Linked DNA regions of Homo sapiens. The protein of the gene in region 2 binds, or shares a complex with, the protein of the main gene of each other region. Each region holds a gene or a part of one and is shown on either strand. Other genes may lie near its edges.

Region 1 (9,367 bases), on a different chromosome or scaffold from region 2:
TCTAAAGCTTTTAGGTCAAGAGTTTTTTTTAACATACAAATGTGAATTTTAAAAACTTGAAAGAAAATCCAATAATATACATAGGAATAAGAATTTTTGAAAACAAGTAGTAATAGCTAAATTTCTGCCAGAAAGGAAAACGTTATACAAAGTGCAGACTAAATTGGGGCCGGGGGGTTGGGGGTGGGGGGGCATGGCAGGACAAAAATCAAAGCTAAAAAGGGAATTCTGGGAGTTATTCAATTCCATTATCTGCCCTCAGGTAAGTAGCCTAAACCTGCCCAGTAAAGGAAAGCCAACTCTTAAGACTTTCAGGGAATAAGAATTCTGAAACCAACATAGCTCAACATTCCACAAAAAATAAAAATAAAAAACAAAAAAATACTGCTTCGAGGACTGTTAAAAGAAGGATGAAACTAAATAATTCAAGACTTCCTACAGCAGGACTCCAGCTCATTCACTTCATTCAGAACCCAATTCAAACAGAGGGTGCGAAGTTATATAATGTCAGGCTTTACATTACACACCCCACTGGTATGTTCAGGCTCACAAAGATGCAACCAAGAACTATATGCGGTTGCAAGCACATATTACAGAAGGTTTTATTTTAATGTTAAGGCTGATGAATCTTGTCCTAAGCAGGTAGGACACCTCACAAGCACTGAGTCTGAAGCAGTGAAGATTTTTTTTTCTTTAGTTTAACAAACTGCTTAATCGTTCATCAAATTACCCCATATATCATGAAGGCCCCAAACATAGTGAAGCTTCACTAGTTTTTCATTTTTAAGATGTATTCAAACATCAAGTAATGCACAACTTGCCAAGAATATTTGAAAATGGTTACTTTTTTAAAATTTAAACTCGTTAGTGCATAACTGCAGGGTTTAATATTACAATCCGAAATCCAATGTTAAGCACTATTCGCAGTGAATCTATATGAATATGAGCATTCTAAGACATAAAATCAACTAGCATTTTACACATTCTCAACATAAAACATCAGATTCCATTTATTTTTTCATCACCATAACCAAAAGCAATCGATTTGGCCAAACTTTTCCACGTGAATTATCTTTGCAAGCAATTTTATTAACCCATGTTAGACCAACAATAATCCCTCCAAAACAAAATAATGCTCTTTTAATTTAAATCATGTTTAATCTTTTATAATGACAACTTTGACAGCAGTCAAATATTTTTAAATAAAATACTTTAAATACTCAAATTGGAAAAAAAAAAAAAAACTTTAAGGCAGGAGACCAACAATTACTGACGCTTAAATCTTTCCAGAGCTAGTCACTGTTCATTTTTACAGCAATAATTGTAATGAAGCCAATTAATACCTACGTAGTCAAAGTTTAATTCAAGTTTTCTGTATCGGTCAAAGGGGCCGGGCTTACTGAAAAGCATTATTTCCATTTAGTTTTCTGATTATATGCAATATAACACCTTATAATTACTTTGAAATAAAAACAAATGTGTAATTACAGATAAAAAGGAATTGATGACTCTGCGAAACCAAGCTACAGACAAAAATTCAGAACAACAAAAAAATCAACTTAAGAATAAAATGTTAGACTTATTTCAAACTTGCGTCTCAACTGCAACAATAAAGCTAGGTGTCAAATGCAAAGCTATGATTTCAGCTAGAAAAGAAAATGTCTAACGGATACAACACCCATAGCACACACTCCAACTTTCACGGTCCCAATTACGAAGAAAGTATTCAAATACCATTGCAATCAGATTTTGGTCAGGAAATATAAACTGATGCATACAGATTGAGACTCCAGCCTTTGTTCAATAGCTTACAGATGGATAACTAAATGTGCTACAGGTTGATAAGCATTTACCAGGCTTATGCATGCTGCTTCCAAGCTTATGAAAGGTATAAGAATTCTATATGCAAATAATCTTGGGTAATTTTTTTTAAACACCACTGAGCTACACACTCCGAAGGAAAGGCTTATTCACGGCTACTATTTATTTCCATGTTTACCTCTACACCCTCCCCCTAACCCCCCCCTTCACTTTCTCCTCCCACCCTGTCCCGCCATCTTGGGCCGATAGGAGCAGCCATTACTTAACTAAATGACAGTGCCAACAACTTTCCACACAAATAAAAAAAGACTACACCCCGAATCCTCCCCAGCCTCCCCTGTCAGACACACAGGAAATGAGGCTCCAGGAAGAGAACACGTTTACAAATAACTACGGTATTTCTATGCCAAAAAGACCCAAAAAGTAAACAAGTCACCTAACTTCAGGTAACACACACTGCAATCGAGATACATGTCAACAGCCCAATGCAAACTCTTCACCGACCTAAACTCCGTGAAACTTCCCCCTTCTGGGAGCGGGGACACAAGAAAGCCTAAAACATTTGGTTAGCAGTAGGCATCACGAACAGCCTGCTTGAAGGAAAAGAATTTTTTTAAACCCGTAGAGGCAAGTTAAGTCCGAAATTTGGGAAAATCTGAACACACTCACGATCCCTTGACCCTAAACAGGCACCTCGAAGATCATCGGCCTACCCTCAAAAAGCTGTAAAATAGCAGGCAGTTGTGTCGACCCAGTTGAGCCCGGCCCCAAAGCGATCCCGTCTCTGTTCCTCCAGCTACAAGAGGAAAAGAGCGATTTCGCAAGGGAGCAAGCAGGGTACCCGGGGGTGGGGGGAGAGCAGAGGCAGGAAATAGTTTCCGGAAGCCCCTCGACCATCGTCCGTGGCCACAATGAGCACAGACCCGGCCGCGGGGCCCGGGGCGAGCGCGGCGCCGGCCAGGGAGACGGTGTCCGCGCTCCGACTCGCAGCTGCCTTACCTTGCCCAGTAGGGCCTTCGTCCTGGCGCCATCTTCATGAAATCTCACGAACCCAAAGAGGCGGCTGTGGAGACAGACACAGTTTACTCGTTAACGCTCAGGGAACGCCACCGACCCGTCCCTGCCCGAGCCCGAGGCCCCAGCGGAGGCGGCGCGAAGAGCGCCAAACCGAGGTGCCCGCCCCGCCGCCGCCAGAGACAAGCCGCGCTCGGTCCTCCCGGGAGAGCGGCTACTGCCCGTCCGGAGCCGACCGGGCGAGTGACGGCGGCCCGTACCTGTCCAGTCCGCCGAGCGCCTCCCTCTCCTCGGCTGTCAGGCTGGGGGACGCCTCCTCGCTCTCGCCGCTCGCTTTTCCCGCCGCCATTTTCTTTTCCTCATCACCGAAAGCGGCGGCGGCAGCGGCGGCGGTAGCGAGCGACACTCCGCAGGATTTCATGGAAACGCAGCGAATTCACAACTCCAACGCCGACACCCCCCCTCGGACCGGGGCCCGCAGTGACGCCCCCAATCTGCGCGCGGGACCAGCACACCAACTTTATCGCCGCCTCCTCCTCCGCCGCGGGCGGCGGCGACGAAAAATCCCAACGCGGCGGCGGTGAAGGCGGCGGCGGCGGCGGCAGGGGCTGCGGAGCCCCCGGGTCGGCAGCGGCGGCTTTCGGCTGTAGGGTCACATCGCGGGGTTGGGCAGGGGGCAGCCACAGGCGGGGACGGCGGGAACGGCCGGAGCGCGCGGGGCTGGGGAGCACTGAGGGGATTCGTTGGAGACACAAACTTCCCCGGCACCAGCACAAAGTTGTTGTAATTGTGTCACACAGCGAACCCCACGCCGCCGCCGTGACCCCCCCTCCCCGCCCGGCTGGCGCCACCAATCGGCGCGGCCCGCACGCCTCACGTGACCTTTGTTGACTCACGTCAGCCGTGGCTCCACTTAACTTGCTAGCTGCCCGAGCCCCGCCCACCGAGGCCGCCACCGAGATGGGAGCGGGACGCAGGCCAATTCTAGCCGGTGGTTGGCTGCTGGGCGCGTCTGTCGGGGGAAGGGTTGTCACCGAGAGGGAGCTTCCTGTTAGGTTGTGCTGGTTAAATACACTGGGGCAGAGAATGGAGGGTCCGGGCCGTGTCACCTCGGGAACCGCGGCGGGCTCTGGAGGGGGAGGGGAGTGGTGGGGAAGGGCGAGGTCCGGCACCGCCCGCGGCGGGCGCGAGCGGCGGGCGAAGACGCCAAGGACGGCATTTGCCTGCCCGCGAGCTCTGGGATGTGCCCAGACCGCGGCTCCGGCCGTCCCGCGCGCGCTCCAGGGGTCCCGGGACCCCACAGGGCCTGGTACAGGTCGCGTAGCCGGGAGGCGGCGCACGGCCCTCGACCTCTGCCCTCCGAAGAAGGCTCAGACTTTTGGCACTGCTGGAAATAATGGCCTCCGCGAGGAGGGCGCTCGGGGAGCGGCTGCCGGTCCCGTGCCCCGCGGTCCGGGTGCCGCCCTAGGCCAGACCTGCGCTGGCAGCCCCGATCACCTCACCCGCGCCGAAAGTGAAGGGGGAAGGGCTCCCCTGACCCCCGCCCATACGCCCCAGGCCGGAGGGAATGAAGAGTCGCCCGCGGGGCCTGGCTTGCCGACCATGGCTCCCCACCGCCAAAGGTCTGTCTGTTGGCGGCACTTTGGGGCCAGATTTTCGTGCTGTGTTTACCCTGTGTCTTATCAGTAGTTCATTACAGTCTTACAAGAAAAAGCAATGAGAAATTGTGAAGCGGGATCTGCAGAATGTTGGGTTCTATTGCCATGATTTCAGTGGAGCCTTCTTACAAAAGTAGGGGCTGCTTGTGGACAGACCTGAGAGAAGACATAATTAAATCATCACAGCTGGTGGCCCAAGAAATCCTTTCTATCCCCCAAAACCTGCAGGTTTGTAACCCCTAGACAACAGTAACATTTTGTTGTTCTGTCTCTCAGGTGCAGGGGAAAGGCTTTAGTCTGACTTTTAATCTTTACTATAGGTGAAAAAAAAATAGGCCTTTCGACTACTCTTCTCAAAAGGCAAATTTATTTACTAAGCTGTATGTCTTATAACAGGGATAGGAAAAAATTGATAGACATATAAGGACAAGATTCTGTTTATAAACGGAGTTTTTTATATTTTCAATAGGTTTTCCACCTGTAACCAATAAAAATTATATATTTAAACTTGGATTTCAAAATATGACGAAGACAATTCAGTGCTGACCCAGTAATTCCTACCAGTATTCAGCGGGAAGCTATGGGAATCCCAACTGATTTTGCACACAGTTTTAAATTGTTCCCCTGAGACTAGTAACTAGACGAACAAACTGTAGTTTTGTATAGATTATAGTTCATGTTTAATTACTTCCTCTGAAACACCTTTCCCTTTATGATACTCCATTTTGCTTGAATGAGTGTGTACAAAGGGCCAAATCTTTTCTACGGCTAAATTAATACATTGTTAACTTTGTCACAAATGGTGACATTTAAAGCCAAGGAAATTTTGACCCCAGTAACTCGCTCGCACACTCTCTCATACACACACACACACACACACACATACACACACACTTGCACAAGCACAGATAGACATTTTGCTGGTATTTGACTATCTCCCTGAAGTTAGCAGTTCCTGACTCAGGTCCTTTTCAAGGATTATAAGGCTACTCAATCCCGGCCGGGCTCTGTGGCTCACGCCTGCAAAGGGAGGCCGAGGCGGGCGGATCACGAGGTCAGGAGTTGGAGAGCAGCCTGGCCAATGTGGTGAAACCCCACCTCTACTAAAAATACAAAAAACAAAATTAGTCGAGCATGTGGCGCTCGCCTGTAGTCCCAGCTACTCGGGAGACTGAGGCAGAAGAATCGCTTGAACCCGGGAGGTGGAGGTTGCAGTGAGCCATGATTGCACCTCTGCACTCCAACCTGGGGACAGAGTGAGGCTCTGTCTCAAAAAAAAAAAAAAAAAAAAAGGCAGCCAGGCGCTTTGGCTCACGCCTGTAATCCCAGCACTTTGGGAGGCCGAGGCAGGTGGATCACGAGGTCGGGAGATGGAGACCACGGTGAAACCCCGTCTCTACTAAAAATACAAAAAATTAGCCGGGCGTGGTAGTGGGCGCCTGTAGTCCCAGCTACTCGGGAGGCTGAGGCAGGAGAATGGCGCGGAGCTTGCAGTGAGCCGAGATCGCGCCACTGCACTCCAGCCTGGGTGACAGAGCGAGACTCCGTCTCAGAAAAAAAAGGCTACCCACTCTCCACACCTCAACACTTTTCTTCCCGCTATTACTATGTAATAGCAGAACAGCAAGGAGTGGATGCAATGGGTGGGAGTTGGAGTGAGGCAGACCTGGATTCGAATCCTTGCTCTACACAGGCTGTGCGACCTTGAGAACATTACCTATCCTCTAGGCCAGTGCTCTATGTCTATTACAACTACAAGGATCTATCATCAAGCATGGGACAAATTTCATATGGTAACATAAGTCCTTACATCATACACATGTTACATAGTGTGTTATCTGTCAAATGTATGTAAAATAGATATAGAGCCTATAAGGTTTACATATTTCACTGGAGAGAGAAATAGGGACATACAATAAATGATTTTATAATAAATTTCCATGAAAAGTGAATCTGAAAACCCCACCGGAAGGCAGAGTAGTGCAGCCAAAGGAGCATGAATTGTGGAATCATACAGCTCTAGGTTCAGATCCTACCTTTACCACTTGATAGCTAGGCAGACTTCAACAAGTTAGTCTAATTTGAGCTTCAGTTCTCTCATCTGTGAAAAAGAGAAAATACAGCCACTTTATAACATTATTTTAGATGCCATAAGGTAGGTAAAGTGCCAGACACATAGATTCAAAAATCTCAATAAAATAGGAAGGCTGGAATTTCCAAAATTTTTTCTTGCTTTCACAATCTGGGTTCTAAATTTATTATTACTCTACCCATCACTTCCTCCTTCTCCCTCCACAACCTCACTATAAGCCCAACACATAAGCAGTCCTAAGTACTTTATACTTGAGGCATATAACCCCAGTATTGCTACATCTCTCATTTATTCTAAACTTCGGCCTTATAAGCCGGGTGCGGTGGCTCACGCCTGTAATATCAGCACTTTGGGAGGCTGAGGTGGGCAGATCACCTGAGGTCAGTAGCTCCAGACCAGCCTGGCCAACATGGTGAAACCCTATCTCTACTAAAAAAATGCAAAACTTAGCCAAGCATGGTGGCACATGCCTGTAATCCCAGCTACTTGGGAGGCTCACGCAGGAGAATCGCTTGAACCTGGGAAGCAGAGGTTGCAGTGAGCCAAGATCATGCCATTGTACTCCAGCCTCGGCAACAGAGCAAGACTCCATCTCAGAAAAAAAAAGAAAATAGAACATTCATCCTTATATCACTTAGTACTGATTCTTTTTCATAATTCTAAATACACCAGGAGCTGGGGAAAGTTTAATCTGAATTTAGCAAATTAATACGACTAATATATGTATAGATAAATCAATATTATAAAATTATATAAAATCTAGCTAAGTCAGATTACAGACTAAGTACATAATTTGTAGCAATATTATGTTAATATTTATGTAAGTACCATCAACTAATTAGAGAAGGAACCCATTTAAGTATAGGAAAATAATGTGACTTTCTTTTAAACAACGAAATATTTAACCTGAAGCACTTAGGAATATTTAGTGTGTTTATAATGTTAGTGCCATATAACCTTTACAGATAATAAAAAGTCACATAACAGAGTCATAGTTTATCTAGTCTTATCAATAGAACTATACGTAAATGTTACGATCAAACATAGGTTCAAAAAAATTTACCAGTTCTTCCCATACTTACCACTGTCATAGAGACTATCCAGCTGATGCCAGAACACAAAAATGACAGAAATAGATATATGGTTAGGTTTGAGCAGAGACAGGGAGCCAAGGATAAATGGACTTTCAGTTGTTATGAAAACTTCAGTTGTGAGAATAGAGTTAGGACTGCTAGAAGATGCCTGGACTCCTACCTTCACCAGGCTGTAATGAGGCACCTCACATCCCACCCCCGCCAACACACACACACAACTGCACTAGGCAGCCTGGACTTCCACCCAGCAGTTGTGAGGGGTCAGTACCCATCCCTGCTGAATTAATGTCAGAGTCGTCAAAACTTTCATCACTGCCCAGTGGTATACTACCACCCCCCCCATTGTATCAGTGGAGGGGGAGCAATGTAGGGAACAATAATGAGGGACTCCTATACTGCCCAGCTAGGGTGAATGGAGGCCTCAATCTAGGCCTGGTAGGGAGCGAGAACTCCCATCCCCACAAAGCAGTAACAAGGAGACATTGCACTCATTGTCAACCAAGATTGAGGGGGAAAGCTGGACTTCCACCCACACCTGGCAGTAACAAGAGAATGCCCCCTTTGCCCCCACTAGAGCAATGTCAGAGGAGGCCTGCTAAAATACAAGATTTAAATAAGATCTAGAGTCTTGGCCGGGCGCAGTGGCTCATGCCTGTAATCCCAGCACTTTGGGAGGCGAAGGCGGGTGGATCAGCTGAGGTCAGGAGGTGGAGTCCAGCCTGACCAACATGACAAAACCTCATCTCTACTGAATACAAAAAAAATTAGCTGGGCATGGTGGCACATGCCTATAATCCCAGCTACTTGGGAGGCTGAGGCAGGAGAATTGCTTGAACCCCGGAGGCGGAGGTTGCAGTGAGCCAAGACTGTGCCATTGCACTCCAGCCTGGGCAACAGAGTGAAGCTCTGTCTCAAAAAAAAAAAAAAAAAAAAAAAATCTAGAGTCTCAGAACACTGCCCAAAATATCCAGGTTTCAATAAAAAAATTACTCATCATAGCAAGACCCAGGATAATTTCAAATGAGAAAAGGTCAACAGATGCAAACACTAAAGTGAATCACATGTTTAAATTATCTAACAAGGGCTAGGCATGGAGGCTCACGCCTGTAATCCCAGCAATTTGGGAGGCCAGGCAGAAGGATCACCCGAGGTCAGGAGATTGAGACCAGCCTGGCCAACATGGTAAATCCCTGTCTCTACTAAAAATACAAAAATTAGCTGCGCATGATAGCGCACTCCTGTAATCCCAGCTACTACTTGGGAGGCTGAGGCAGGAGAATTGCTTAAATCTGGGAGGCGGAGGTTGCAGTGAGCCAAGATCGCGCCATTGCACTCCAGCCTAGACTACAGATTGAGATTCTGTCTCAAAAAAAAAATAAAATAAAATAAAAATAATAGCAAACAAACAACTAAAAAACTAGAAGGCCTCAGAAGAGCAAGAAGAAGTTTCAGAAAAAAAAAAAAAGACACAAAGTATTGTTGAGCAAGTGGCATCTGTGGCCCTATTGTCAGGAGGAGATGTCCAAGCACTTCTGCCCACTGCATCTTGGTACCAGGATCTCCAAGGAAAATACAATTCAGTCAAGCCCCGGGTAGAATAACTTTACTCACATAGAGAAGACACACAGCAAGATCGGCTTCAGTAGTGGACATTAGTTCTCCCTGGCCAACAGGTCCCTCCAACAGCC
Region 2 (9,020 bases):
AATTAGTCATGGAAAATAGGTCCAGGGCCCCATATAATCAAAGAGAATTAGCGAACAAAAATATTATGCGGGCATATATAAAATAAAACTGTCAATACCATATGTATATACAGCAACACAATTCATTTGTTCTGGGTTTTTCTTTTCTTTTCTTTTCTTTTTTTTCTGTTTGTAGAGTTGGGGTTTCAACATGTTGCCCAGGCTGGTCTTGAAATCCTGAGCTCAAGTGATCTGCCCACCTGAGCCTCCCAAAGTGCTGGGATTACAGGCGTGAGCCACCGCGCCCAGCCTATTCTGGGTTTTTCTAATGCAGGAAGACCTGACCTTATCTGTGCCATGGACCCCTTTCAGAATAATATTTTTTAATTGTATAAAATAAAGTACATTGAATTATAAGGAACACCAATTATATTAAAATACAGTTTCCAAAATATACAAATCTAATATGCATATACTTGTTTATCAGCACGTTAAGAAATCAGATTTAGTGATGGATCCGATAATTATAATTTCAAAGACATGATGCGCATAAAGGCTACTTCAAGATTATATGCAACAATTGTAGTATGATATAAAGATATTTGAGATTTCTGTTGTTACAGAGTCACAGAACTGCTAATACTAGAATGGTATGTTACCTACACTCATATTTGAATAGAATGGTAATTTTCAGTTAAAAGTTAGTAAAAGAGATTTTTTTCTCCCTGTCCAAGTTCACAAGCCCCACTGAAGTCCTATCTATAGACTCCTGTCTATGAACCCCAGGTTAAGAAACCCTACTCCTACTGCCAGGCATGTCTTCCATTCAGCAAACGTTTACTGTGCCTCAAGGCATCTACTGCATATCAAGCATTATACTGGGCTCTGTAGCTTCAGAAGTTTTTAAGGCAGAGTCACTTCACTTTGGGTATGCAGCCCCATGAGTGAAGTAGACATGTGAACAATCATAGTTCAGGATGGTCGATGCCAAAGAAGAGTTATTAAACGCTATAAGGACACGGAGATGGGTGTGTCTGCTCAAAGAATCAGGGAAGGTGTTGCGAAGGGGTGACATTTGAGATGTGTCCTAAAAGATACAGGAATTTGCCAGTGAAATGGAGAGAAGGGCCTTTCAGGTAAAGACACGTTTTCAGGGAATGTATTAATAACTGAATGTGGCTGGAGCATAGAATGTGTGTGAAAGCATGGCCAGAGATGAGACTAGGAAGACCATGTTAGGAACCTGGTTGTGAAGGACCTTGCTAAGGAGTTTGGACTGAATCCTTAGCTGAGAGAGGCATTCAAGATCTTCGAGAAGGGGAGTATGTGGTGGAGGTTTAATTTCTAGGAGATAAATGGATGTTCTTTGGAAGGAGGGTAGACTGAAGACCAGAGAGGTAATGAGGATCTGAACTAAGGCAGAGACTGTGGGCACTGAGCAGAGTTAGAAGTAATGAGGATCTGAACTAAGGCAGAGACTGTGGGCACTGAGCAGAGTTAGAAGTAATGAGGATCTGAACTAAGGCAGAGGCTGTGGGCATTGAGTGGAGTTAGAATTTGCAGGTGTTGATTATTGACATTGTGAGTGGCTTAGGGGGAGTTTTTTAAATTTCTGGTTTGGGGTGGTGTCTGTCAAAGAGGTTTAAAAAAGTGAAAGGAAGTCTGGGCGTGTTGGCTCACGCCTGTAATCCCAGCACTTTGGGAGGCCGAGGCGGGCGGATCACGAGGTCAGGAGATCGAGACCATCCTGGCTAACATGGTGAAACCCCATCTCTACTAAAAATACAAAAAATTAGCCGGGCGTGGTGGCGGGCGCCTGTAGTCGCAGCTACTCGGGAGGCTGAGGCAGGAGAATGGTGTGAACCCGGGAGGCGGAGCTTGCAGTGAGCCGAGATCGCACCACTGCACTCCAGCCCAGGCAACAGAGCGTGACTCCGTCTCAAAAAAAAAAAAAAAAGTGAAAGGAAAATGAGGGGAGAATTCTCATTGATAATAAGGGCGAAAAGGTTTTTTTGGCAGAGTAATAGAGTTTTGGAAACCATTGCAAAGCTGTCAAGTGTGGTGTAGTTTTTGGTTAAGGAAATCAGAGGTGTCAGCAGACATAAAAGACAGGGGAAAACATGGGAAGTGTCCTACCTATAGTGTAGAAAAAGCACAACTATCTATGTCAGAGGTCGACAGACTGTGGTCCATAGGTCAAATCTGGCCCACGATCTGTTTTTGTAAATAACGTTTTATTGGAACATAGCCACACTCATTTATTTATATATTGTCCATATCTTCTTTTGTGGTACCAATAGCAGAGTTGAGTAGTCGTGACAGAGATGTGTTGTGTCAGCTCACAAAGCTGGAAATACTCTTTACAAAAACATTTGCCAACCCCTGATCTATGTGTTTGAGTGTTGGATGTTCAACCTCTAATTTGCCATCCAATGTCTATATGATGATAGAGAATGAATAAACGTCTTGGCTCTGCCCTTTGGGCTGGATTACCCATGCTCTGTGTACCTGCAGCATAACACAGACCCCTGAATATTTATATCAGTCAGTGATGGCAAGGTCTATTGTTCTGGAGTGTACTGTGTGGTAACTGTGGTAGTGCCAGCTTTACACGGATTAGATAATGCTCGGGCTTGTTTTGCCATTTTTTTTATTGGGTTGTCTTTTACAAAAGATTTATTTATATATTCTGATTATTAATCCTTTGTTGTTGGTAGATATTACAGATGTCATTTCCCAGTTTCTTGCTTATTTTAATTTTTTTTTTTTTTTTTTTGAGATGAAGTCTTGCTCTGTCGCCCAGGCTGGAGTGCAGTCGTGCCATCTCAGCTCATTGTAACCTCCGTCTCCCAGGTTCAAGTGATTCTCTTGCCTCAGCCTCCCAAGTAGCTGGGACTACAGGCATGTGCCACCACACCTGGCTGATTTTTGTGTTTTTAGTAGGGATGGGGTTTCATCATGTTGGCCAGGCTGGTCTCAAACTCCTGACCTCAAGTGATCCACCCGTCTTGGCCTCCTAAAGTGCTGGGATTACAGGTGTGAGCCACTGCGCCTGGCCTGTTGCTTATTTTAAAACATCTGTTTTAAGGTGTCATTTGTTAAAAAGTTCTGAATTTTAGTATCAACTTTATCAATCTTTTCCTTTAAGATTTGCAGTTATTCTTTGTTTTGAGGCAGGGTCTCGCTCTGTCACCGAGGCTGGAGTGCAGTGGTGCGATCTCGGCTCACTGCAGCCTCAACCTCCTGGGCTCAAGCAACCCTCCCACCTCCCATGCCAGTTGAGACCACAGGCATGCGCCACCATGCCCTGCTACTTTTTGCATTTTTTGTAGAGGCGGGGTTTCGCCATGTTGCCCAGGCTAGTCTGGAACTCCTGAGCTCAAGCAGTCCACAAAGTGCTGGGATTACAGGTGTGAGCTACTGTGCCCAGCCTGCAATTATTCTTTATATTCTGGAATACCTACTGTTGTTTTCAATGGTTAGATCTTTAATGTATCTGGAATGGATTCTTATGTGTAGTGTAAGGTCGGGTCCAGTTTCATTTTTTTTCCCTATGTATAACCAGTGATCCCAGCATCATTTATTGAATGGGGCTTGCTTTCAAATTGTGAGCTCTTTTTGGTGGAGTCTGTCTCAGGTCCTTATTAAGCACTGCTGCTTGCTGATTGTGTGACCTTGGACAAATAAAACCTCATTGCGCCTCAGTCTTTAAGGATAATAGTAATCTCATAGGGTTTTGTGAGGATTAAATGAGTCAATATACATAACGTGTAAAACAGTGCTTGGCACCTAGAACATGCTCAATAAATATTAGCTGTACTTTAGCACTACTGTTCATTTCTGATTCCTCAGCACCTGGTACAGAGCAGGGGCTCATTTTGCTCAATTAAATTGCCAAATTAATTTGGTTTTCAGGTCAATCAGAATGGTGAGAGTTGGGCTGAGTGTTGCAGGAGATGCTTCCAAGGAGCTACTTAGTTTTAGGGGCTGCCTTAGATTATCTGCTAGGATAGAACTCTTCTCACGCCATCACTTTTGCAGAGAACTTCTGTAGCAGAGGTTGCAAACTGGCAACCTGTGGTTGGATTTGACCTGTATAAGTATTTTGTTTGGTTTACACAATATTTTTAATGTCTTAAAAATGTACACAGACCTCTGAGTTTCTGACTTAACCTTGAAAAATTGGAAGATCTGTCAACAGCAAGCCCATATTCATTTATAGCGGTAACCAGCTGAAACTTTTAGGTGAGATGTGTTTCCTAGTTCTCCATAGTCTGCCTTGCTGTCTTGCTTTGCTCTTTATTTTTATGGCCCTGCAGACATTTAATTTTCTGATTCTTACTTTATTGAGGTATTGAATATTGTCTCCCCCAAACCAGTAAATGACATATTGGGATGGTGGGGGGGATGGCCAGAAATTGACAGATGAGTTTGTGGGCAAGTAAATACTAAAACCTATTTCTAAGGATGAGCCATACTTGATCATAATGAATAGAATGATAAATGAAATTAAAAGATGAGGTGAAATTCAGCTTAGCTCCTTGAATATTTAGGCATCTACTATGTATTAAGTACTGTATTAGAAATTACCACATTGGTGATAGAAAATTAGCTGGCCAGCTTTATGAAATACTGTAGAAGAACTCTTTTTACTTGTATTGTGGAGCTGTTGTCTAAGAGAGTGGTTGGACGAGAAAGGAAATATAGGTATTATTTTCTCAAACATTTGTTGAGCCCTACCATGTATTCTGGAAACTGGCTAGAACTCTGCAAGATACCAAGATGAATCTAGCCAAGGTTTCTATGCTGAGGAATGTCTGTAATGTGTTATGGAGCTGGGATACTAGAGAATGGTACCTGAAAGAGGTGGTCTGTGAACGAAGCTGCCAAGAATAGTTAGTATCTTAATACTTGGAGATGAGACAGTGCTGTATTTTCCAGGCTGAGTGAAAGCATAAACACAGAGGTGGGTATTTAGGAGATGGTAAAGAGTCCACTTTGCTTGGAGAAGAGGATTGTTATAAGGGTGTTGTTGGAATTAAGGGTGGAAATGGAGATGAACAATAGTAACAATAATAGATAAAACCTAAAATAAATAAAACTTAAAAAAATTAATAGTAGTAGTGGCTTTTCTTTCCCCCCAGTGTTCTTTGGGTAGGGTTTTTTTGTTTTGTTTTGTTTTGTTTTTAAATAGAACCAGGGTCTTACTCTGTTGCCCAGGCTGGAGTGCAGTGGCGTGATTATAACTCATTGCAGTCTTTAATTCCTGGGCTCAAGTGATCTCCTGCCTTGGTCTCCCAAATTGCTAGGATTATAGGCACAAGCCATATGCCTGGCCAATGGCTCACATTTTTTGCATGCTTACTATTTGCAAGATAATGTGCTAAGTATTTCATAAGTAGCATTTTATTTAATCCTTACAACAACCTGATGAGGTAGGCACTGGTTTTTAATCCCTTTTTACATATAAAATGAAGAAGAGAGCTAACAATTGATACAGAAAGTATTTGAGTCCAGGTAGTCTAATTTCAAAGCCTGCCTTCCTAATCTCTGCATACCATATAATCAAATCATGGAAGGCTTTGAATACCCATTTCTATTCCAAGCTGGGAAGTTTGAACTTGATTGACTAGGTAGTGGGAAGTCATCAAATGTTTTTCGCCAGTGATGTGATGAAAGCTGTACGTTAGGAAAGGAAGCCTGATTGTGAAGTGTAGGATCAGCATGGGGAGAAAGGAGAGATATGGAGCTAGTTTACTCTCTTACTTCTCACTAGATTGGGTGAGTGCTCCTTTAGGACTGGGCTGGTGTCTGTCTCTGCCTTCCCCCTTCCCTCCCTTCAGCTCCAGTGTCTGCCTATTTTGATGTCTGGTATATTCATTTATTTTTTTAAATGTGATCTTTTTCTACCTCACCTTATTCTAAAAAGGACATAAAGTAGCTGCCTAGGAGCTCAATAAACATTCTGAGTTAATTAGTAAATAACTAGAGTTACATTTAGATGTATACACAAATGAAATACTATGGCTTTGATGGAAGGAGGAATGCAGCCCTAGAGTTGGTCATATGCTTTATTTGATATACAATCTCTATAAAGCAGAAGGCCAGGACCATACCTTTACTTTGTGATGAATTGTGTATTCTATGTCAGTTATAATATTCATTATCAGTTAATAAATTAACTATATCAGTTAATATTAATGAGCACCAAATTCAGAGGGCATTCATACTTTAAACAGATATTTCAGTTTGTATTTAGCATTAACCAGCTGCAACCCCTCCCCCTCCGTCACACACACAAAGGCAACAAAAGTTCCCATTAATCAGCTCCTTTACTGATATTGAATCTGTTGAATATCAGTTCCGTAGTACCCATTTATATACATTTTCTTTTGCTTTTGCTTTTGCTTTTTTGTGTGTGTGTGTGATGGAGTCTCACTCTGTTGCCCAGGCTGGAGTGCAGTGGTGAGATCTTGGCTCATTGCAACCTCCGCCTCCTGGGTTCAAGTGATTCTCCTGTCTCAACCTCCTGAGTAGCTGGGACTACAGGCAACTGCCACCACGCCCAGCTAATTTTTTTGTAGTTTTAGTAGAGATGGGGTTTGACCATATTGGTCAGGCTGGTCTCGAACTCCTGACCTTAGGTGATCCACCTGCCTCGGCCTCCCAAAGTGCTGGGATTACAGGTGTGAGCCACTGCACCCAGCTGCTCTTTTTTGTTTGTTTGTTTGTTTGTTTGTTTTTGGAGACAGCATCTCACTCCCTTGCCCAGGCTGGAGTGCAGTGGTGCAAACTTGGCTCACTGCAACCTCTGCCTCCCAGGTTCAAGTGATTCTCCTGCCTCAGCCTCCCAAATAGCTGGCTCATACCTGTAATCCCAACACTTTAGGAGGCCAAGGTGGGTGGATCACTTGAGTTCAGGAGTTTGAGACCAGCCTGGCCAACATGGTAAAACCCCATCTCTACTAAAAGTACAAAAATTAGCCAGGCGTGCTGGCATGTGCATCTAATCGCACCTACTTGAGAGGCTGAGCCTTCCATCAATTCTTGGTGCTCCTTGGCTTGTAGCTGCATCACTCCATCTTTGCCTCTGTTGTCACATGGCGTTTTCCCTGTATGTCTCTGTGTCCAAATTTCCCTTATAAGGTCACTAGTAGGTCCCACCCTACTCCAGTAGGAGTAACTTCATCTTAATTGATTACCTCTGCAGCGACTCTGTTTCCAAATCAGGTCACATTCTGAGGTACTGAGAGTTAAGACTAACATATTTGGCAGGGATGGGATTGGGGGGCACAAGTCAACACATAACAGGTAGTGTTTGAGATAACATAGAGGCATTAAATTAAAATTTATTAAAATGGAAGGGTAAGATTGCAACAAATGGGATTAAGGAGAGAGTAACCAAAGGAATGATGGACATAGGAAAATGTAAGGAATATTTAGGTAATGAAATAGTGAGAAGTCTGATTTGCTGGTTTGTTGAGGAGTTGTGGAGAAGTGAAGCCGACGTACTTTCTTGGGGCCCTGGATGCCAGGTCTAAGACATTTGAATGTTGCTGAGTGACCAGTGTGTGGGAGCAGGATGGCACTGCGGAATTTTGAAATGGTAGATAATTGATTCAAGCTTTGAGTAACTGAGTCAAGTTTTAGAGACATTCTAATATGATCAGGTGATCATGGATAAGTAAACACCCTGTAGAAAAACAGATGGTCAATGACAACACACCCAGCCTCCCTCATTTTCCTATGCCAGTAACTTTTGCCAGCACAATAAAGAAATCTCTCTTCTGTAAAACAACAAACTTTGAGGGTTTTGTTAGCCCTCTCTTCTTGGTGAGTCATCTGTGGGCATTGAGAGATACATCAGCTTTTCAGGGTCTCCATTCAAAAGCCTCCCCATGGATATTTCAGTGTTAATAGTCATGTCACACTTCATTTGATTTCAAACCATTCTTCAAAATTACCTCTTTTCCATCCTATTCTTTACCTCTTGGTTTTTCTTTGAAACTTCTTCAGTTTTTCCATAATTTAAAAAAATATTGGAAAGAATTGAGGAAAACTGAGTATTGTTTTAAAATAACAAATAGAATTGAGGAAGACTGGGTACTGTCCAGGCTAATGATATGCTCTTTTTCTGTGTCTTTTTATTTTTAAATTATTATTTAAAAAAAAAATAGAGTCTCGCTTTGTCACCCAGGCTGGAGTGCAGTGGTGTGATCATGGCTCACTGCTGCCTCAACCTCCCAGGCTCAAGCGATCCTCTTACCTCAGTCTCCTGAGTGAACACGTGGGACTACAGGTGTTCACCACCTCACCTGGCTTTTTTTTTTTTTGGGGTAGAGAATGGGTCTTCCTATGTTGCCCAGGCCAGTCTCAACCTCCTGGGTTTAAGCGATACTCTTGCCTCCCAAAATGCTGGGATTACAGGCGTGTGCCACTGTGCTCAGCCTGTGTCTTTTTAATGGTAGCAATGTTGGCCTTGCCCAGGATAGTACTGTATTTAAATTGTGAATACTCATTTGAATTGTGGTCAGTAATAGCCCTCAGGTGCTTTCTTTATTTGTGCCCAGGCAGTTCTTCCTGATTTTATATTTGCATTGTTTATACTTTTTCTAATAGCACGTGTCCCCATGAAATTTTAAAAATTATGTTTAAGGCTGTACACTGTGGCTCACACCTGTAATTCCAGCACTTTGCAAGGCCAAGGCGGGTGGATCACCTGAGGTTAGGAGTTCGTGACCAGCCTGGCCAACATGGTGAAACCCCGTCTCTCCTAAAAATACAAAAATTAGCCTGGCGTGGTGGCGTGCGCCTGTAATCCCAGCTACTTGGGAGGCTCAGGCAGGAAAATTGCTTGAACCTGGGAGGCAGAGGTTGCGGTGAGCCAAGATCATGCCGTAGCACTCCAGCCTGGGTGACAAGAGTGAGACTCCGTCTCAAAAAACAAAAAAAAATTATGTTTAAATACCGCAAGTACATAACTTCTGAGTCATTTTCATATTCATACAGTCTTTACAAATTTAATTCATATAAAGGTTTTT

The links.
Region 1: NCOA6 (region 2) and KDM6A share a complex: the UniProt entries of both Homo sapiens proteins name them as parts of the MLL2/3 complex.

What each region holds. Positions count from the first base shown.
Region 1 is NC_000023.11:44,867,441-44,876,807, reverse strand, and holds the start of KDM6A (lysine-specific demethylase 6A), read right to left. Parts: upstream 3,621-9,367; 5' UTR 3,257-3,620; coding exon 3,096-3,256; intron 2,885-3,095; coding exon 2,821-2,884; intron 2,633-2,820; exon of another isoform or gene 2,535-2,632; intron 1-2,534. UniProt on the Homo sapiens protein: Histone demethylase that specifically demethylates 'Lys-27' of histone H3, thereby playing a central role in histone code. Demethylates trimethylated and dimethylated but not monomethylated H3 'Lys-27'.
Region 2 is NC_000020.11:34,814,506-34,823,525, reverse strand, and holds part of NCOA6 (nuclear receptor coactivator 6), read left to right. Parts: intron 1-1,886; exon of another isoform or gene 1,887-4,224; intron 4,225-9,020. UniProt on the Homo sapiens protein: Nuclear receptor coactivator that directly binds nuclear receptors and stimulates the transcriptional activities in a hormone-dependent fashion. Coactivates expression in an agonist- and AF2-dependent manner.